2 separate regions of the Homo sapiens genome follow, and region 1 is linked to region 2. The links come from fine-mapping of genetic effects on gene expression. A gene starts in region 2. The other region holds a variant in brackets. All regions are shown on one strand. Distances are between the middles of the regions.

Evidence for each region.
Region 1: its variant is fine-mapped to the expression of MOCS1 in lung (TOPMed, PIP above 0.99).

What each region holds. Positions count from the first base shown.
Region 1 is chr6:39,957,643-39,968,895 of GRCh38, reverse strand. It overlaps LOC102723789 (a long non-coding RNA gene), which reads right to left. Exons shown (of 6, transcript XR_001744112.1): 4 at 5,337-5,386. It also overlaps the pseudogene RPL23P6. Among named protein-coding and RNA genes, the nearest start is that of MOCS1, 29 kb to the right of the region's middle. The variant C/G (reference allele first, on the strand shown) is at 6,309.
Region 2 is chr6:39,929,113-39,940,365 of GRCh38, reverse strand. It overlaps MOCS1 (molybdenum cofactor synthesis 1), which reads left to right and starts at 5,904. Exons shown (of 11, transcript NM_001358530.2): 1 at 5,904-6,071. The coding sequence starts at 5,949. It overlaps LOC102723789 (a long non-coding RNA gene), which reads right to left and starts at 5,797. Exons shown (of 6, transcript XR_001744112.1): 1 at 5,723-5,797.

The DNA of each region.
Region 1 (11,253 bases), 29 kb before region 2:
AATGTTAGATTTTTTTAATATACTTCCACAAATCCCTGAGGTTCTGTTAATTATTTTTGGTCTACTTTCTGTCTGTTCACACTGCATAATTTCTATCTTAAAGTTCACTGATTATTTCTTCAATTTTGCAAGAAATAATTCAGACTTCAGATTCTAGAGGCAATGATATTCAGTATCATCCTTTAAGGGTTTTTTTTCTGACTACAAAGACCCAGAGGAGAGAGTTTTTAAAAACTATTTAACTAATTGTATTTTTACTTCTAAAATTGTCACTTGATTCTTGTATCTTCTATGTCTTTGAGACTTTTTTTATTCATTTCAAATATGGTCATAATTGCACCTTGATTTTTTTTTTCTTTTTTTTTTTATTTTATTTTATTTTTTATTTTGAGACAGAGTCTTGCTCTGTTGCCCAGGTTGGAGTGCAGTGGCGTGATCTCAGCTCACTGCAACCTCCGCCTCCTAGGTTCAAGCAATTCTCCTGCCTCGGCCTCCTGAGTAGCTGGGATTACAGGTGCACGCCACCATGCCCCGCTAATTTTTGTATTTTTAGTAGAGATGGGGATTCACCATGTTGGTCAGGCTGGTCTTGAACTCCTGACCTCAGGTGATCCACCCATCTCGGCCCCCCAAAGTGCTGGGATTACAGGCCACCATGCCCAGCCTTTTCTATTTTTTTATTGTACTAAAATACCCATAATGTAAAATTTCTCATCTTAATCATTAAGTGTATAGTTCAGTGGTATTAAGTACATCCATATTGTTACACAACTCATCACTATCCATCTCTTTTCAAACTCAAACTGTCTATCCCTATTAAACAATAATGTCCCATCCTCTCTCCTCTCTCCTCCCAGCCCTTGGCAACCACCATTCTACTTTCTGTCTCCCTAGTTTTGACTATTCTACCTCATACGTGGAATCATATAGAATTTGATATTTTTGTGACTGTAGCAAAATGTCCTCAAGGTTCATCCACATTGTAGCATGTGTTAGAATTTCCTTCTCTTTGGAGGCAGAATAATATTCCATTTTATGATATACCACATTTTGCTTGTTCATCTATTGATGGACATTTGGGTTGCATCCACATTTTAGTTATTGTGAATAATGCTGCTATGAATATGGGCATACAGATATCTCTCTTAGATCCTGCTTTCAGTTTTTGGGTGAAAGTGGAATTGCTACATCATATGGTAATTATATCTTCAATTTTTTGAGGACCCACCCTACTGGCTTTCACAGTAGTAGTACCATTTATATTCCCACCAACAGCGCGTAAAGATCCCAATTTCTCCACATCCTCACCAACGCTGTTATTTTTTGTTTTTTGTTTTTTTTTGACAGTAGCCATCCTAATGGGTGTAAGGTATTATCTCATTGTGGTTTTAATTTTCATTTCCCTAATGTTTAGTGATGCCGATCATCTCTTTAGGTGCTTACTGGCCATTTGTATATCTTCTTTGGAGAAATGTCTATTCAAATCTTTTGCCTATTTTTAAAAATCTGGTTGTTTTTCATTGATTTTTATGATGACTATCTTAAACTATTTGTCAGATCATTCTAACATCTCTGTCATATTGATATGAGCATTTATTACCTCTTTTCACTCAGTTTGAGATCTTGGTGGTTGGTATGATGAGTGATTTGTGATTGAACCCTGGAAATTTGGGGTATTATGTCATGAGAGTCTGATCTTACATAAATTTTCTGTTCTAACTGGCTTCCTCTGACACTGCACTGATAGGGGAAGGGGGGTTCCACTGCCAGGTGGGGCTGGAAGTCCAGGTTTCCCACTTGGCCTTTATTAACACCTGAGAGAGAGAACTCCTTGTTACTGCTGGGCAGGGGTGCAAGTTCCAGCCCCCATCTAGGCCTCCCTGGTTGAGGGGAGGGGTAGGAGTGTCTCATGAGTGTTCTCCAAATAGCCTCCACTGACACCATAGGGGTAGAGGGTAGCCTCATTATGGCTGGCTGGTGGCGAAAGGCCCAGCCCTCTCCACAGGCTTCCTGACACCCACCCTCCAGCAGGAGGGGAGAGATGTCTTATTACTGCCAAGGGGCCATGGAAATCGAGGCTCCCATGTGGGTGCAGTGTGCCTGGTACTGCCAGGAAGGATGAATATTCTCACTTGGCCTTCTTTGATACCAGTTTTTGGAGGACAGGAGATTTTGGTGCTTCCTTACAGTCTGGCCAAGTCTCCCCACTTGGCCTCTGCTGGCCTGGGGACGACCAAAACTCTGCTTTAGCCAATGGAATGTGGGTAAATTTGATAGGAGCAGGAGACTTGAATATGTTAGCGCAGTTTTGTTTAATCTTTTTTTTTTTTTTTTGAGATGGAGTCTTGCTGTCACCCAGGCTGATGTGCAGTGGCACAATCCAGGTTCAGTGCAACCTCCGCCTCCCAGGTTCAAGTGATTCTACTGTCTCAGCCTCCCAGGTAGCTGGGATTACAGGCACGTGCCACTATGCCCAACTGTTTTTGTATTTTTTTAGTAGAGATGGGGTTTTGCCATTTTGACCAGGCTGGTCTCAAACTCCTGACCTCAGGTGTTCCGATGCCTGCATCTGCCCCCCAGAGTGCTGGGATTACAGGTGTGAGCCACCGAACCCGGCCTAGTTTAATCTGTTGCTTGCCTGCCATTCACTAAGGGAAGAACGTGCTCCAGGTTTAAGGACCTGAACACAACCTGCAACTTGGAGGCTGAAGCCCAGATTTTAGCCTATCCCAGCTGACTCATACACCCTGCAGTAAGAAATCAATGCTTGTTGTTTAAATGCTGAGTTTTGGTGGTCCTGAGGCCAGCAGAGGCCAAGTGGGAAGCCTTGGCCTTGATAGTGAAGCCCTTTTTCAGGGGGGCAGGGAACTATATCTGCCCAGTAACTTTACAGTATCTTTCCATTGTACGTAGAGGATGTGGATGTATAATCCTATTGTAGGAGAGTAAAAAAAAACTGAGTCCAATGCAAGATATTACAATTAATTGCTGATCTTATCTTTATTGTCCTCCATTTAGTTACTTTGGACCCTGTTCTTTTTCTAATTTCTTGAGTTAGATGATTAACTCATAAATTTTCAGACTTCTTTGAGTATATGAGGCTGTAAATTTCTGTAAAGGTAGCTTTAGCTGTACCGCATGAGTTTTGATACATAGATTTTCATTATTATTCAGTTGAAATGTTTCTTTATATCTCTTACAATATTGTCTTTGACCCAAAAACTACATGTTTGAAAATTTCCAAATGTATTTTTATGTTTTTGTTACTGCTTTCTAAGTTAATTATACTGTGGTCAGATAATACAATCTGTATGATATTGATTCTTTCAGTATTTGTAAGGTTGGTTTTATGTCTTAATATGTGGCTAATTTTCATAAATGTTCCATGTGTAAGAGTATATATATTTTTAATTTGTGATATAGGGTTTATTACATGTTCATTATATAATAGTCATTATGTTAACATCTGCTAAACATTTATTAATTTTTTATTTATTTGATCTGTCAATACTAGATTGTTTTGGAGTTACCTGGAGTTGACCTTTTCCTTGCACTTCTCTTTGTTTTCTATGTTCTTAGGCTGTTTCTATGTTTCCTTGTACTTCTTTTTGCTTTCTATGTTTTTAGGCTGTTTTAGGTACATAATATTTAGAAATGTCACATCTTCCTTAGGAATTGAAATTTTACAACCATGGAGAAGCTCTCCTTAAAGCAAAAAAGCATTTCTAGAGGTATTTTGAGATACCTACACCAGCTTTTTAGTTAATATTTGCCTGATATTATCTTTTTTCCATTCTTCTATGTGTGACCTTTGTGTTCTTTCATGTTTGAAGTATCTCTTAATGATGGCATAGAGCTAATCTTAAAAATATAATCCAGTTGGACAATCTGACCTTTCAAATGACTTAGCCCCTTTATATAATGATTATTGAATACTTTTATATTTCTAGAATCTTTCTGGTGCTGCCAAAAGATATACATTTTCCCCATGTTGCAATATCTTTGAAATTAAAGTGTTTCTTACAATTCATGTTGTAGTTAGCAGCTTTTTTTAACTTAGTAGCATGTAAAATTTAAGTACATTTTACAACTGATGTCATCCTAGATTTCTTAGATTCTAAGAAATACAATATTTACTCAGATTTTCTTAACTTTCTCTTCCCCTTCCACCCCTTTTATCTTTATTGACTTAAGGTTTTTCATTTCCTTTTTTCCCTTATACCTGGAATTTTCACATCCTGTCTGTATCGTTTTAGTGATTACTCTTAAAATTGTAGCAAGCATGCTTTAGTTAAATTCTAAAGGTAATCGGTGTCTTATTCAGATTCTTCTAGAAGCTGCCCTTGAGACAAGAACTTGAGTACAGGCATTTGGAAGTAAAATCAGGAAGCACAAGTGAATGAATGGGACAGTGAGATGGGGAAGAGAGAGAAGCCAATACGGGAAGCCCTCATGGGCAGGTAACTGTTGTGGATAACATGCTCAAACCCTCTGAATAAGCAAATGGAATGTGTCTGACAATTTTCCCGCCAGGGGATAAGGAGGTCAGGACATTTATCTGACTCCTCTATTGGTTGAACGTTATCCATGGGTGTTAACTTCCCTAAACTTCCAGGTTACAGGTGCTTAAGGCAGAGCACGTTTCTGTGGTTCAGGAGAAGGACATTGGGCATGGGAGAGAGACATGTGCTTCAGCAGGAGCTGTCAGCCTGTTGAAAACTGTCTACCACAGTTGCAAATGAACTTGGGTGGGCAGAAAGGATACTGGGGAAACCGGTATCAACAGTGCCTGCTACGATTAGTATATTTCTAATCTCCTCCTGCCGATTGCCAAAACCTTGAACTTTTCATTTCAATTACCAATTCTACTTCATATATTAATCAGTACATATTTTATTTCCACTATTTTGTATACCTCCTAAAACAATGATTATTTGTATTATTTCAAACAATGGTCATTTAGTTTTACCCATATGTTAATCAGTTTCCTTGCTCACCTTTCCTTCTTGAGAATCTCACTTCTTTTTTTGGGGGGTTTAATTTTTCTTCCTTTAGTTATGTTTTCCTCACCATCTGAACTTTCTGGTTCCTAGGTTTGGATAATGAATTTGGATACTGAGACTGTAAAGTATATCATGTTATGCAAGTCTATTTCGTTCCTGCATTTTAGATAGCAAATAGCAAGTGTTTTCATAGAGTGGAATTTATGTAGTTTAACTTTTTTTTTTCCAGAAACAGTCTGTTAGGGAATTTAGTCTTTGTCTTTGTGAAAATGACTTTTTTCTCAGTCCTGAATGATAGTTTGACTAGGCATAAAATTGTAGGTTCATTCTTACCTTCTCTCAGCACTTAAAAGATACAAGGTGACCTCAAAATTTCATGGAAACTGGAATTAAAAGATAAAAATAAAGCATTTTATTTCTCAACATAAACTCTATCAGTTCAAGACACTTTTGAAAGCAATGATACCAGCCATTTAGTCCATCCATAAAGAACTGAGGGTCTTGGGAATTTAACACATCAGTGCAACCTTTTTTACATTATTAGGTGAAGAAAAATGGGTGCCCTTTAAAGATTTTATAAGATGAGGAAACAAATAGTAATCAGAAGGAGCCAAATCAGAACTGTAAGGTGGATGCCTAATTTTCCATCAAATCTCATGAAATTGCCCTTGTTTAAGAGGAATAAGCAGGAGCATTGTCGTAGTGAAAGACTCTCTAGCAGTCTTCCTGAGTATTTTTCTCATAAAGCTTGGCTTTCTCAAAACACTCATAATAAACAGATGATATCATTCTTCAGCCCTCCAGAAAGTAAACAAGAAAAATGCCTTGAGCATTCCAAGAAACTTTTGCCACGATCTTTGCTCTTCACTGGTCTGCTTTTGCTTTGACTAGGCCACTTCCACCTCTTGGTAGCCATTGCTTCTGATTCCATTTCAATGTGTCTAATGTATACCTACTTTTATTTATACCATTCAGGGGTGTTGTGACCATAGAGCTAGGTAAAGAAAAGAGAGAAGCAGAGTCTACCAATACCAGACTCTTGGTAGCCACGAAAAATACGTAGTTTAGTCAAGTAGTGATGACATTAGGGAACAAAATCAGCTGAAATTTGGTTGGAGATTGTAGAATTCAGATGATTCAAATCAAGTAATAAAACTGAAAGATTACAAAAAGTATTGTGTGATGGTGTATAACTGAAACAGTAGGTACCAACCCTACCTGAAAGGTCCTTAACAATCTAGAGATTATTAAAACTGGACTCAGTACATCCATCTGTGATGCATGAAGCCACACTTGACACAGGCA[C/G]TTCCAAGTCTGGTATCCCTGTGCCAAATGTCTCTATGTCTCTGTCCAGTTGCAAATCCAACTTGCCTTGGGTGATAATCACATCATGAATTGTCTCAGTAACCTAAAATAACACTGAACTTTAGTGGGTTAAGTGTCTTTTAACCCCAGGAATATAGAAATTATGAAGTGCATCAAACCCATGACATTAGTTTATGTTACAGTCAAGATAATCTGAGTGGTGGGTATATAAAATGCTGGTAAAATATAATTGAATGTGGCATATTAAAGTAAATGACAAATTGACCTGTCATTCCAAATTAAATGTGCATTGGATTTGAGGTTGGATGGTATAAGAGGAAGTGACTTAACTTATAAAGAGTGTTAGGATAGTTAAAAGAACTGTAGCTGCTTAATAATGAGGGAAGGATTCGTTTGTTAGGTCATGAGTTTGTTGAGTTTAGACTTCTAATTTCTTAAAGAAAATGGAATATATTAAATTTATAAATGTTAAAGTGCTTACAGAAAACTAGTCTGTTCAATTCAGGTTTACTTAACATTAATCAAAATCAAACTCCCTTAAGTAATCAGTCCAATTTAATAAGGCTCCCTGAAAATAATTATTTTATATAAAACTTACTGGGTTTAAAACAGTATAATACAATTTATAAGATAAATTTAGAGGTTTAGGGAAAACTGTTTACATTTACAATTTTAGTAAACAAAACTTTATTTTTAGTTATTTGGGTTTGATTTTTAATCTATGTGCACAAAACCTGCCCTTGGACTTAAAAAAATTCTCACATAGAAACTGAATCTAAGGATTCATATTCTTTACCGATGTAGTCTCTTGCTGATTCTCTCTAATCTCACCTTCTGAAATTTGTACTGAATATAAATTGAACCTTTTCACTCTATCTCTCATGCCTCTCATTTTTTAATGTTTCCTTACCCAAAATGTAGCACAGAGAAATCACTTCTTTTCCAGTTCCCAATTCTATCTTCATCTGGATCTGATTAATCTTTCCACTGGGAATTTTTCCTTAATTTCAATGGCTCTATTCTCATTTCACATCAGACACAAACCTTGTGTACTTTCTCAGAGCCAAACTGCCTCCCTTGTTCTCAAAATTCCTCCTATTTGCGATAACTCCCTGGAGTAAACAGGCGCACTGCCGCCTCTACTCGGCTTCCCAGACTGGCTGGGGGCCTGAGATTGAACGGACCTCACATCTCACATGCCATGCCTGTCTGCAACAAGTCATTCCTCCACTTATGGACATAGGATCTGGCTTTCTGAGTGACATCAAAGGATGAATAATGCAATAATTATGAGTTAGGTCTCCATGGTGTGAAATTTGAGCAATGGGAAATGAGAAACAGGAAGGAGCTGGGCAGAGAAATTCCCCCTTCTTTTCTCCCTTCTAATCAGAGGTGGTGCTTCTTTTTTAAAACTTTCCAGAAAGGTACTGTGTGCTAAGCAAATATACCTTCTATGTGACTAGCTGTGTTTCTTCATGGCTTCTCAAGAACCAGTGGCTAGTGCAGTAATGCCTCATATTACATTGCTTCACATCTTTCTTTGCCCCACTTCCCCCTTTTCTCCCTCACTTTCATGTCACTGGGCTTGTAATTTCTAAATAAAATATCTCCATCTTCATCCTTGTCTCAAGCTCTGCTTTCTAGAGAACTTAAACTAAGAGAGTCTTTAACACTTTTATTTGATTTTGATAATTTAGCCTTCTCTTATATTTAAAAAAAACTATTAATGTAACTTCCAGCCAGAGAGAGTAAAAGATGCTTAATGATATTGATTCCCTGTGGAATACTATGCAGTCATAAAAAAGAACAAGGTCATGTTCTTTGCAGAGACATGGATGGAGCTGCAGGCCATTATTCTTAGCAAACTAACACAGGAACAGAAAACCAAACGCTGCATGTTCTCACAAGTGGGAGCTAAATGATAAGAACACATGGACACATAGAGGGAAACAACACACACTGGGGCCTATCAGAGGGTGGAGTGTGGGAGGAGAGAGGGGATCAGGAAAAAATAATAGGTACTAGGCTTCATACCTGGGTGAAATAATCTGTGCAAAAAAACCCCATGACACAAGTTTACCTGTGTAACAAATCTGCCCATGTACCACTTAACTTAAAATTTTAAAAAATGCTTACAATTACTATCTTTTAAATTTGAGACTATAATCCCACTTTTAATACTGACAACTCTCACTCATGGTGAATTCTTTTCTTATGTGTTTTGTGATTGTGGATTGTGAGTTCACCTTTAGCAGGGCTGTATTGAAGGGAACTCTGAGAAACCTTAGATAAGGTTTTGTCCCTCCAGAGAGGACTTACATTCTCTTTGTTACAGATATTACCAGCTTGGGAGTTCTCAGCCACATAAGAGATCTAAATGTGAAACTCTGCCTTCAGGGAGAGCAGGTGTCTGGGGGAATCCTATCCCTTTATTCAAATACAAGTAAAAACAGACAAGCTTCCTTGATATCCCTCTTTGCTGAAGGGTTGATCTTGTTTTTAGTTGCTGCCCTTCTTCTGAAAATATAGTAGTAGTTCTTTGATAGTTTTCGGCTTCATGTGCAAAGCCTCCATCATGGTCTCTGAGGTAGACAAACCTAAGGACAGCTACAATGTGAACTGAAGAATACTTCTGGTTTTCAATTCTCTATTCATTTTTGCTCCAGGATTTATGTTATTATAAGCTCAGCTATGCATTTAGAAGATTATTTTCTGTATTTAATCATACTTTCATGGTATTTTATAATGAAAAGGTTTTTGGATTATCTAATCTGCTACAATGCTACAGCATTTCTGTAATACTAGAAATGTAAGATGGGGTCTATCTTTAACAATCAAAATGGACTGAGTTATTACTATTTCTCAAGTATGACTATTACCATATTAAATGAATTAACTCATCTTCTCAACTCTGTGAGGTGTAGGTACTACTGTCTCCACTGTGTTAATCTGGGTCCTCCAAGACAAAGGTGACAAGACCAGAATAAATGTGCAAGTATGTTCAGGGAAATGCCTTTGAAAAAGAAATGGGAGAAAGAGGGTAAAGGCTGGGAGAATCATGTCATAACCCAAGATTGACTCTGAGTGAAGGAGAAAGGGAGAAAAGGCTGGGTAGAAATGTCTTAGACTACACAGCAGTTTCGGAAATGTTCAGCAAAGCCTTTGGAGAGTCTTTGAGCCACAGTTGGTTAAGAAAGGAGTCCCGTGTCTTTCGGGAATAGATGTACCTTAGTACCCCTGCCATTTTCAGTCATTAGTGGGGAGCAGCCCGGAAGAGATGTGACCCTGGCACACATGCTATGATGGATTCCAAACTGTAGCAACTGGGACCCTTGGCTAGTTATGTGCTCTGCACTAGAAGGTCTGCCAGGTGCATTTTCATGCCACCACACCCACTCTGTGCATGAGTAAACAAACACAAAGAGGTTGACCAGCATGCTCAAGAACACACAGCTGGCACGTAGTGGAAACAGGATTCCAACTTGGGTACTTTGACTCTGGGACACAACTTCTTAACAACTATGTCATGCTTTTTTGTTGTTAAATAAGATTTTATTGCATTGAAAATTCACATTCTTTGTACAGAAAGAATATTAAGTTAAACAATTGTGCATATTGTTTGTATTCTTCCAGGGTGAAAGTTATAAATTAATTGGATTCATGGGCCTGTACAAGAGGGAAAAACACACTTAAAAAGGCCTTAAGTGCTTTTTTCTTCTTTCCGGCTTTCAAGATGTTGAAGCGAGGACGTGGTGGGTCCTCTGGTGTGAAATTCCAGATTTCCTTGGGTCTTCTGGTAGGAGTGTGATCAGTTGTGCTGACAACACAGGAGCCAAAAACCTGTATGTCATCTCCGTGAAAGGGGATCAAGGGATGGCTGAACAGACTTCCCACTGCTGGTGTGGGTGACACGGTGATGGCCACAGTCAAGAAAGGCAAACCAGAGCTCAGAAAAAAGGTACATCCAGCAGTGGTTATTCGACAACGAAAGTCATACCGCAGAAAAGATGGCGTGTTTCTTTATTTTGAAGATAATGCAGGGGTCACAGTGAACAATAAAGGCGAGATGAAAGGTTCTGCCATTACAGGACCAGTAGCAAAGGAGTGTGCAGACTTGTGGCCCTGGATTGCGTCCAGTGCTGGCAGCATTGCATGATTCTCCAGTATATTTGTAAAAAATAAAAAAAAAAAAACTTTAAGCCCATTAAAAAGTCTTAAGGTGGGGCACTTCAAAGGCAGGGGCCTATGGATTTGCCAGTGACCTTTAAAATGTGACTGTGTTGCTGAGAGTTCAATGATTATTGATGTATATTCCCTTTCTCCTCAGTCTACTTAACTACACATTAATATTGTTTCTTCCCTTGTAGGCTCTCTTTATCTTTACCTCTGTGACACAGACATCTAACTGCCTATCCAGTATCCAATATTCCTTCATAACTACAATTCCCAGTCCCCCAAAAAGCCAACAACAATAATATACCACCTACCTATCCCCACCTCTCTTATTCAGGATGGCCATCTGACTAACTTCTAACCATGAGTAAAAAATGGTGGGCAGAGCTTTCAGGAAACCCTAAAAGGGTCTGGCTCAACTGACCTGTGCCTGGTGTCATCAGGGTCCCAGCAAAGAAACGGATGTCACACTGAACTTAGTAAAACTTAGGATGGTTTTATATATGGGACTACTGACAAATGTGGGCAGAACATATGAAAATCATGAAGAACAGCATAGGAACACAATATTAGAGTCAGCTGAGCTATTATCTCTAAACCTGAACAGGTAAGAAGACAGGTACAGCAGACTACCTTGAGAAGGGTGACCTTCAAGTCAAGAGATACAGCCAGCAAGAGATGACTCTTTCGGAAGGGAGTTTGGGGGAGTACGGGGAGATATACTTCTTAGGTGCAAAGTTCTACAAATTAT
Region 2 (11,253 bases):
TTTTGTGTGGCGAGAACACTTAAAATCTCTTAGCAATTTTCAAGATACGATATATTGTTATCAACCACAGTCACCATGTCGTACAACAGATCTTTTGAAATATTTAATTTCTATTTACTATATCAATTTATTTGATTTATAGTTATGATATTAGAAATTCAAACTCAGAAAATCTGAAAACATTTAACTCACTGAAAAATAATAATGTCCATAATACCTATTACATGTTAACATAATGCTTTATGAAAACAACAATAATTTCCAAAACAAAAACAGGGGAAAAAAAGTGGCATTGCGCTACATTTTGGCAACTTGCTTTCATGTCTGGCTTAGTAGAAGGCAACTGGATTCTCATATCTGCTTCTGCGTTCAATCTGTGAAATCACACATAGAAAACTCCTATATGGTCATAGGAGCATGAGAGTGGAAAAGACGATTTCTTTTTTTTTTTTTTTTTTGAGACGGAGTCTCGCACTGTTGCCCAGGCTGGAGTGCAGTGGTGTGATCTCGTCTCATTGCAAGCTCCGCCTCCCGAGTTCACGCCATTCTCCTGCCTCAGCCTCCTGAGTAGCTGGGACTACAGGCGCCCGCCACCACACCCGGCTAATTTTTTGTATTTTTAGTAGAGACGGGGTTTCACCGTGTTAGCCAGGATGGTCTCGATCTGCTGACCTTGTGATCCGCCCGCCTTGGCCTCCCAAAGTGCTGGGATTACAGGCAGGAGCCACCGCGCCTGGCACGATTTCTTAATATTACTATGAAACTAGTGTTGACCTCTGAAATCCACACTTTGAAAACAATCGAATTAAAGAGGTATTACAAACTCTTCTCTTAGTTTTGCTGATGACAGAATCTAAACAAGAGACTCCTAGTCAGCACCTCATGGCTCTGAGGGTATGCATGATACATGCAGATGCATAAGGCTGCCATGGCTGGTTTCAGTATGCAAGGGGAGTGATAGGTGCAAAGAAGTGGAAGAGTTGAATGGAAAAACTGGATGATACATAAGAGAGCAAGGGGAAGTTTGTTCCTGGAGTAAGGTTATTTTACTGTTCGCCAGCATGTGCGTTCCCTCTCTGAGAGAGGACTAAGCTGCTCTTCCCTTTGAAATTAGATACAGCCATGTGACTTGCTTAAAGCAGAGTGATGTGTGACACTTCCAGGAAGAAGCTGTAAGAGCCAGTTTGCTGTTTGCCACACTCTTTTTCCCTCTTGGTAACCACCAATGTTCTATGTGGATATTCGCTGCCCTATCAGGCCGGGACCCAGAGTGAGGGCAACACTGACCAGAAACAAAGTTCACAGCTAACTCTTGGATATAGTTTGGATGTTTGTCCTCTACAGATCTCATGTTGAAATTTGATCCCCAGTGTTGGAGGGTGGTGCCTGGTGGGAGGTGTTTGGGCTAAGGGAACAAATCCCTCAGGAATAGGTTGGTGTTATCCCCTAGGTGACAAGTGAGTTTTTACTGCATTAGCTTATGCAAGAGCTCGTTGTTTAATGTGACTTCCCTCCTCTCCCCATGTCATGCCTGCTTCCCTCTGCCTTCTACCATAATTGGAAGCTTCCTGAAGCCCTCACCAGAAACAGACGCTGGTACCATGCTTCTTATACACCCACAGAACCATAAGCCAAATGAACCTATTTTCTTTATAAATTACCTAGTCTCCATTATTCCTTTACAGCAATGTAAAGCAGACAAATACACCTTTCCTGGACATGTAGCCCAAATGAGAGAATAAACACTTGTGATTTTCAGCCTTTGAGATATTAGAGTTATTTGTTACAACAGTACAATCTAGCCCAGGCTGACTGACACAGCTGTCTTAGTCTGTTTTGTACTTCTATAGAAGGAATACCTGGGGCTGGGCAATTGATAAGAGGTTTATTTATCTCATTACAAGAAGCATGACATTAGCATCTGCTCAGCCTCTGGTGAAAGCTTTTGTGCTATGTCAAGATATGGTGGAGAAGATCAAAGGGGAAGCTAGCATCAGTACAAAAGGGCCAAACTGGACAAGTGTCCTGGCTTTATAACAACACACTTTCATGGGAACTAATCCCTTCCCCTGGGAACTTGCTCACTAGCATGAGAACAGCACCAAGCCATTCATGAGGGATCTACCCCCATGACCCACACCTTCCACCACTGCCACACTGGGGATCAAATTTCAACATGAGATTTGGTGGAGACAGAAAAACCATATCCAAATCATAACAGCCATCTTACAGGCAAATCAAGGATATGGAATCTGCCATTTAATGTACTTATTGTGAGCCTATTGTGCATTAAATACCATGCTAGGTGGTATGATTACAGATGATTTAGATTTGGCAACAGCCCTCAGAGGGTTTATAGTGCAGAAGGCATATAAATAAACAATGTCACTCTGTTGTAATTGCCACTATTAACAAAGGGTACTATGGAAGGGAGGAGTCCACGAATCCTGTATCAGGGAACCAGCAAGAAACGGCATACTCAGCTAAAAGTTTTGAAGGGATATTTTAATGAAGTTTTAATAAAAAAGTAACTGCTGCTCTTTACCATTAAGAGAGACTATTTTGGAGGTGTGGGCAAGGTTAAGGTGGGCGGGCTGAGGGGGGCAACAGGAATGCTGAGGCATCCAAGGACAATCAGCAGAAGAAAGCCAATCCCACCCCAGTCTGAAGTGAAGAAACAAATGTGAGAAATAGTGTTACTGGACTAAGTGGGAGGTGGAATCATGGCGGAGAGGCCAGATGACACCAACTACAGCTGTAGCCAGAGCAAAACAGGGGAGATCAGGAAGAATAGATAATCCAGCTTTTCTCTCCTCCTGCTCTCTGATCTCCTGCCATGCTCCCTATTGGCAAGATCCACCTGGAAACCAGAGGTCAGGGCACCTGGATGATGCCATCAATGCAGTTGGTAGAAGTCAATCTCCTGGTCCTCAGAGCAGGGTGGAGAAGGATCTGGAGGGGCAAATAAAGACTATCCTGAACAAGGTCCTCAAAAGAGAAATGATAGGAATAATTGATACAATATTTTTTGAAACTTTATTGCTTCATTAAAATGCTTAAAATTGCAAGGAGAGTCCACAGTTACTGATAGAATGGGGATAGGTTTGAATGAATATTCAGATGACTGGACACTTGAGGTTCCTATTAGAAGAGACAATGGACATATGGCTGGAAATCACATCCTGGATCTTTTTTTGAGGGGGAGTTGGGAGATGAAAGTCAAGTGCGGAGAAAATGGGTAGGGAATAAGGAGAAACATATCTTCCTGTCAGCTGGAGAACAGATCACTAGAGATAAATTGTAAGGTGGGAATTGCATCATATTTTTCTGACCTAGTCTCAAAAGCCATGCAGTATCACTTTCACACTGTTACAAACAAGTTACAAACTGACCCAGATGCAAAGGAAGGAAAGTTAATTCCACCCCTTCTGGAGAAAGCAAAATTCTATCATAGGGCTGAATAATACAGTAGCCAGTAGCCACACATGGCTGTTTACACTTCAATTAATGACAATTTAATAAAATTAGAAATTCAATTCTCAGTCACACTAGCCACATTTCATGTGTTCAATAGCTATGTCAGGACATGGAATATCTCCATTATTGCAGAAGTTTCTATTGGACAACACAGCTCTAGAACATACGAGACAGGAAATATTGTTGCAGCCATCTTGCAAATACAGTCTGCCACCAGGACCTAGGCAAACCAAATTGTATTAGAGAAGATAGTGCAGTGGCTCACAAGACATTGTGTACAAGGGTTGGCAATAACTGCTGCTGTTTATCACTAAGAGAGTACTTGGGTTAAAGTCTCAAAGAGAGGATGTATATGCCTAGGGGGCTAAAACTAGGGCCAATAGGAGGGTATCACAAAAGAGAGATTTCTAGGACAGTATGTTCCATGAGGCTCTTTGAGCATGTGACAAAAAGCCACCATTCCCCAGGAAAAAAAAATACAGTATTATGCATTCAAGTTCAGGGGTCTACAGAACCCTCCAAATCAATCCATGGACTTGTCACATCAGAGCCCTACTGCAGGCTGTGAGCCCTTGAAAGTATTTCCTTATTCCCAGCCATTAGCAGAGGATTCGGCCCTGATGACACTTAATCACCATATGTTGACAGAAAGGGGCACTTTTTTGCTGAATACAAGTAAGAACTTTAATAGGTGGGGAAACATTTAAGTGGACCAGACAACATCAGGAAGCCAGAAAGTTTCCCAGCACTACAGGAGTCCAAGTAGATGTATGATAATATGGAGAGGATTTCAGCCTTCAAACAGAACTGAGTAAGCCTTAGGTCTTGCCTTGGAGACCCAAGTTCTATAAAAGATGACAGTAAAGCCCAAGTGAAGGGATGATCACATACAACTTGTATGAAGAGGGTGGAATCTAGAGAGGCTCCAAGGAGCTGGTGACATTCTTGGATCAAGTTCATATGTCAGATGGCTTCTTCCCTGAGGTTGAGTCCTCTCTAGAAGGCTCTTCAAGCCTCATACATACAAAAAAAAAAAAAGTTTTTATCCTTCTCTCCCCCATACCCAGTTTTCCTGATAAATCCAGACATATCTAAACTTAGCAGTGGACAGAGCTTGAACAGTCCTCAGTTGGTCTTCAGGCCCCTTGCAAACAGACCTCTGGCATACTTGTCTCATCAGTTTCAAACACACCCCAGATACACTTTCATCCCCTACAATATATTTTCTGAATTTTGAGTATCATTGTGAGAAATTCACATTGAATCTAAGGCTAAAATCATCTCAGCTTTTCTGACAGTCCCACTGCACTTGTAAAAGTCAGTTATATTCAGTTATTTTTTCCTCTCCCACTATTCGGTCAATTCTTCAAGATCAGGAGCTATATTCCCACTTCCTAAGCATGCACTTGGCAGCTGTATGTTCCAGCCGGTGTTTTATTCTTGCAATTCCACAGGGACAGGGTTTTGGATACAACAGGCTGGTTTGAGCATAATTATTCTTAGTACATAAGCTCATTATTGTGTGTGTTATCCAAAATCTTAAAGGACTACAGCACTCTGCTTTTTATAGAGAGGAAGAGGCACACCCCACCATTCCTAACACATACTGAATCTTGACTGAATGACTGTAGAAAGCAGATTGCCCTGGGTTTGAAACCCACTATCAGCTGTGTGACTTCGAGAAAATTACCTGGTCTCTCTAAGCCTCAATGTCCTCAGTTGCAAAAAGGACATTCTATTCATACCAGGATTGTTTTAAATAACATTTAGCATGGTGCTTGGTGTATAAGAAGCATTTCAAAAATGTTGTCCACTCATTCTGTGACTTCTCATATACTCTTGCCTTCTCCACGAAAAAAAAAAAAAAAAAAAAGATTGTTAATATCCTTTTGGGGCACAACTGGAGAAGTGTATCTTGAAAGACCTAACTGACCGTTTTACAACCACAATCTGCACTATGGTGCACTGAGTGATGTGAGTCATGCAAGTGTAGGCTAAATCTTTTTATTTAGAATGTTGATATTTCACGGACTTCTGAAAATTTATTACGATTTTTTGAAATATTACATTAAAAAATTACTTACTTTGATAACCGCAGTTTACCTGGCACCCTCTTAAATTTTGCATCCAAGGCAGTGCCTCATTCGTTTGGCCCTTGTCCTGTCCTGCCTACTGTCACACCACGACCTAAATCTGAGACTAGAGCAGCCAGAAAAACTGGAAGGAAAAGAACCCCGTTCCTTACCTGAGTTTACCCTTCTGCCCTAGAGCGCTACCCCGGCCCAGGAAAGTGGGCACAGGGAGCGTACTACAGCTCCCACAAGGCCACGCGGGACTGCGTCCTCGCCTATTGGCTGCGCGGGTCCCGCCCTCCCCCTGCCCCTCCCCGCCCTTGCTGGGATGACCCCGGGGGCGAGTGCCCGGCCAGTGTGCTCCCGAAGCGGGCTGCGGTTCCGCTCGTATCAGGCTTCATGGCGGCGCGGCCACTGTCCCGGATGCTGCGGCGGCTTCTGAGGTCCAGCGCCCGGAGCTGCAGCTCAGGGGCTCCGGTGACCCAGCCCTGCCCCGGGGAGTCCGCGCGAGCTGCCTCGGAGGTGAGCCCACCCCGCCTGCGTCCACAGCTTCCCGGGGCAGGAGTGGCCCCGGCACACTGCCCTTTTCCCCCAGTAGCTCCCGGCCTATCTGCTTGACCGCTTCTGGGAGGGACCCGTTGGCACTCCTCAGTGGAGCGATGTTCTCCAGATGGACCGCCCGGTCTCACCCGCTAGCCCAGCGGGAGAGGTTCCTGGGAGTCCCGCTTCAGAACCTCCCTGCCCCCCAGCCACGCCACCCCTTCTAGCCCTGAGCTTGGCCAGAAATTCGGGTAAGCAGAGGACTGGGACTTTGGGTCCAGTGAGGTGTCTTAGTACCTTTCAGCCTTGCCTTGCACCCACCCTCTTTCTTAAACATTTTCCCTCCCTATCCCAAGAGCTGAGAGATCAGGTGTCCCTGTGACACCTGCTTCATAGTGCGACTGACTAAACATGTCACCTCGGTGTCACCAACGATGAGTTGTTACTGTAGTCCCAGGGCTCTGTAACCCATCCTTTGCTGACTCTCCTTGTCTTTTTTATTAACCTTGGGAGGGTTCAGCCTTATCCTAGAGCAGAACAGGGCAGGACGTGGCTTCTTCCAGGTGAGAAATTAATTCCTCTGTCTTTAGGGTTTTGGGTAAGATCCCTCAGTCCTTGCCAGCACCCCTCAGAGTGTTTCAAGTCATTAAAAGTTTTAGGTTTTGGTTGTTCTTCTGCTCAGGTGGTTAGGGAATAATTTGGGGGGAAAAGTACCTCTTTTCATTTAGTGAAACCTCTTTTCGGTACCTATCTAGGCGTTTTTTTCCCCGTCTCCCAGAACTAGGCTTCCTGTCCTGGGATTCATAAGATCACTGCTCCCTCCTCCCCTATATTGCTCAATGACTTCCGCCAAATTTGCTTTCCCCAAATCTAAGCCCCTCTGGGATCCTCAGATAAGCAGGCCCATGGTTGGGAAGTGAAGACTTTTTAGTATCCTCAAACTCTGAACATCATTGAGGAAGAGATAGGAAAGCAAAGATGGCTGAGAGATCTTTAAAGAATTCAAGAAAAGGGACTTTTCTTCTCCAGCCCCCCACCCCCTAGTTTATTTTGTACTGGTCTTTCATGAGAGAACCTGTGTTGAGTGACTCACATGTGGAAGCATTTAGTCCTCACTAAGCCATGTGAGGTGAGTAGAGTTTGTATGTTCAGATGAGGGGGCTAATCTAAGTTAACTTTCCTCCAGTCGCAGAGCTGTAGAGGGCAGGAACTCAACTCTAATGCTTTTCCGTCCTCCCTGTGTGGAGGCCAGGGAGAGAGCCTGCTCCTATCCATCCCTTTACACTGTGAAGGGAGGGGTAATGTGGCAGAAAGGAGAACATAGACTCTGGGGCAGCCCCATCCCTTATTAGGGATTCACCAAGTCCCCTTACCTCTCAGTGTCTGTTTTCTCATCTGCAAAGTAAGAATAAAAGTGTCTACTTCATAGGATGTCACAGGGATTAAAAGAGTTAACGTATGTTAACGTATATACTTAGAACAAAGCTTAGCCCATGTAAGTGCTGTGTTATGTAAATGTTGGTGGTAATTACTATTATCCATGCTGCCACTGGCACATGCTCTGTCCTGTGAGTCCCCTCCCATCTGGACTTGTTGGATAGCTATTCTGTCAACTCACATTGAATCCTGGACATCTCATTAGGATTATCTTCAGCAGACTGGGAGTTCCTGAGGGCTGGGTGCACCTCCGCCTTTCTATCCCCACAAGCGCTTAACGCAGGGTTGTGCAGGCAGTGGATTCAGCCAATAATTGTAGCTGCTTGAAACTTAACTAGTGAGGAGTCACGTGGCATAGTAGACCACACTGGACAGGGAGTCCCATGTTTTCACCCGCCAGTTTCGCCTCCAATTTCACCTGGCTCCTGGGGCTGTCACTTCCCTTTGCTTCATGTTTATAAAATGAGAGGACTGGGCCAGCCCATCATAAGATGGGGGAGGGCACAGAAACTTGTCTTGAGGAGACTCTAAGGGGAGGTGAGTCTGGAAATGGATATGTTCTGCTCATCTCCAGAGCTTGCCAGTTGGGGTGGGGACACCTTGAACCCCTTCTTGCAGGGTCTGTCTCCCCCAACACGCCCACACAGGGCTCTGGTAGTCTGGTTTGGGATGGGAGGTGCTTGGAGAGCTAGGATGGAAAGCCACTGGGCATTGTTTGTGTGGCAGGATGAGGGTGTGAGGGAGAGAAGTGAGGTTAAGTGGGAGCTGGCTGTGAGGATTGCGGAAAGGGGGCTGTGGGCTGAGTCCAAGAACAGGTCGAGTAGCTTCTAGCTATGGAAAGGAGTAGTGTGTGGGTCAATGGGGAGGTGGGTGGGGGAGACACAGCAACCTGCCAGCCTGCATCTGGGGTGGCCCAGACAATCTTTGTAGGGTTCAGCCTAGCCTGGGAGTGCTGTATCCCTCTTTCTCCCTCTGAGGCTCCATGCAGGCTTTGTTGGGCAACAATGAAGCCTGCTGCCTGTGGCGGGGGAAGCAGGGAGGGTGAGTCTAGGCAAGGCAAAGGCACCCATCTGTTCAGGGGGCCAGAAAAAACAAATGCTGGCTAGGGGTTAGGCTGCAAGGAAGTGGGTGTGGGTGAAGGTAGAAGGAGTACAGCAGGCACTGGTGAGGGAGAATGAGGGGGAGGAGGGAAAGAGGGCTTTCAGGAGGTCATCTTGACTTCCAATCTGCCCAGCTCCTCAAAATCCATGTTTCAGCGAAATGTGACTGTCCTCCTCAGAAGCTATAGGTGTAAAGACCTCACACTTAGGGTGGGAATGAGGGGAGGGGGAAGGAGAATCGAGCTAGGCTAGGCTCTTTGTTGGGTCCTCTCATTTAAAAGAGATTAATTTTAAGAGACCCTTAGTATACATCATCCCAATAGCAGGGTAAATCAGGGCCACGATACTTAGATTTGGAATGTGCTTTTTTTCCTCTCGAATAACCCTGCTGCTCTGTTTAGACTTTGGAGCTATTTGAGGGCTAGCCTTTAGCAGTCAAATCAGATGCCTAAGATGAGTGACTAGTAGAGGAGGGCACCTTGAGGGCAGGGTCCCGCTTTAACTCTTTTGTCCCACCCTTCCCCACCCCCTTCACCCTAATCTGCATTGGGTAGACATGAGATGACCAGTAGTGTCTGGCAGGCTGCTTAGTGCCTGCTGATGCACACCAGTATTGGTGGTCCTGGGGATGCTCAGACCCCACTTGGGTGGTGTGGCAGCAGCTTTGAAACCCTGCCTCTGGCCATCTGCTGTTAGTAGGGTTGGAAGGCCAGGGTCTTGGAAGGGAAGGGAAGCTGACAAACTAGAAAAACTGATCACAGCACACAACAGTGTTCCTCCATGGATCACTGAATGAAAACCTCGGTGCCAGGAACTCCTCCAACTGAGTTAGGTTGGATTATTATTTCCACTGCATAGATGAGGAAACTAAGGTTTCGAGAATTTAGGTGACTTGCTCAACAGCTAGAGCCAGGCTTGTAATATAGGCTCACCTACTCCAAATCCTGTGCTCAGAACCACAACAACTTGCCCTGGATTAAAATAGCACCTGGCACTTGGTGTCACTAGGCCGATGGTTCTCAGCCCTGGCTGCACAGCTGAGGCACTAGATTGAGCTAGAATCTTTGGGACAGATTCTAGCTCCTTCTTGAAACTAGAATCCTTCTTGAAGCTCCTTGAGTGATTTTGATGGGCTGCCAGGGTTTCAAACCACTATACCAGGTTAAACCATTTTGACAGTAGAGACCAGCCGGGAAATGATTACCCCCATGTAACTGGCTTTTGCATATACGACCTTTCTGCTTACATTAGGGACAGGACTATTTGTTCATGTGATTCAAAATGTACCAACATCCTGTGCTAGACACTGGGGATACTGAATCAGGCAGAATGACTTCTCACGGAGAGGAAACAGCCCAGGCCAGCCTGGGACCCTGGGAATATGATCCGTTGAGTGCTTCCTACTACTTCTGGCATGTCCCAGCCCTCCTGAGCAAGCAGGGTTGCTGTCTACTCTGTCCTATAATTCCCTCTGAATCTTGGGCTCCTTTGACTGGTGCTGATATTTTTTTCCTCCAGGAGACTTAAGGGACAGGGAAAAAAGTAGAAGAATGAAAGTAGGGCATGCAGTGTTAGAGGAGAGAAGATGCAGGAATGGGGCTCGTTAATATCTGAGTAATGAGTTTGCATTGCTGGCAGGGTGAGAGTGTGTGTGTTTAGGAGGCTGGGTTCAGAACGGGTGGTGCAGTCTGCATAAGTCTAGACAAGGTCACAGAAGTTCTTAAAAGTGAAATCTGACCAGCCTCTCCCATTGCCAGAACAAAAGCACCAAATTCCATTTTTTTTTTTTTTTTTTTTTTTGAGAGAATCTCGCTCTGTTGCCCAGGCTGGAGTACAGTGGTGCGATCTTGGCTGACTGCCACATCTGCCTTCTGGGTTCAAGCGATTCTCTTGCCTCAGCCTCCCGAGTAGCTGGGATTACAGACTCGCGCCACCACAGCCAGCTAACTTTTGTATTTTTTAGTAGAGACGGGGTTTTGCCATGTTGCCCAGGCTAGTCTCACACTCCTGGCCTCAAATGATCTGCCCTCCTCGGCCTCCCAAAGTGCTGGGATTCCAGGCGTGAACCACCACACCCGGCCCCTAATTCCATTCTTGATTGCTCCATCACACTGCTTGCTCTCAGGTTTCTGCTGAATAATGCTCCTTGGTCCTCTCAACTTCCAATTCTTTGATGTATTTTGACTCCTCCCCCATCCAGCCACCCCATCCCCCCATCATGTCAAGACTGGGTTGAGGGGGGGTATCTTGGCAAGTGAAGAGGCAGAATCTAGGGTGACTAACATGACTGAATTGCAAATAGCTGTTGATGAAAAAGAGGGCACAGCACTGCAATACATCCAGATTCCCAGGTATCTCATCTGGACTCCGGTGGCTGATGGGATTCTTGATTATGGAGTGCTCCCCGCCCCAACCCTGAGGCTATCTGTGGAAAGGCAATGGGTTGAGTTTGAGTTTTCTCCATCATACCGCAGGGAGGGAGGAAGTGACTGTTGTGATTATAGCAGACGGCAGTTAGAGAAGTGACTGCTGCTTACTCCCCACAGGATGGTGAGCAGGGCTTCTCAGAGGAGGTGGGAAATTCTCCCGCGGTGGGTAGAGTGAGGAATGTTTTATGGGCCCAGAAA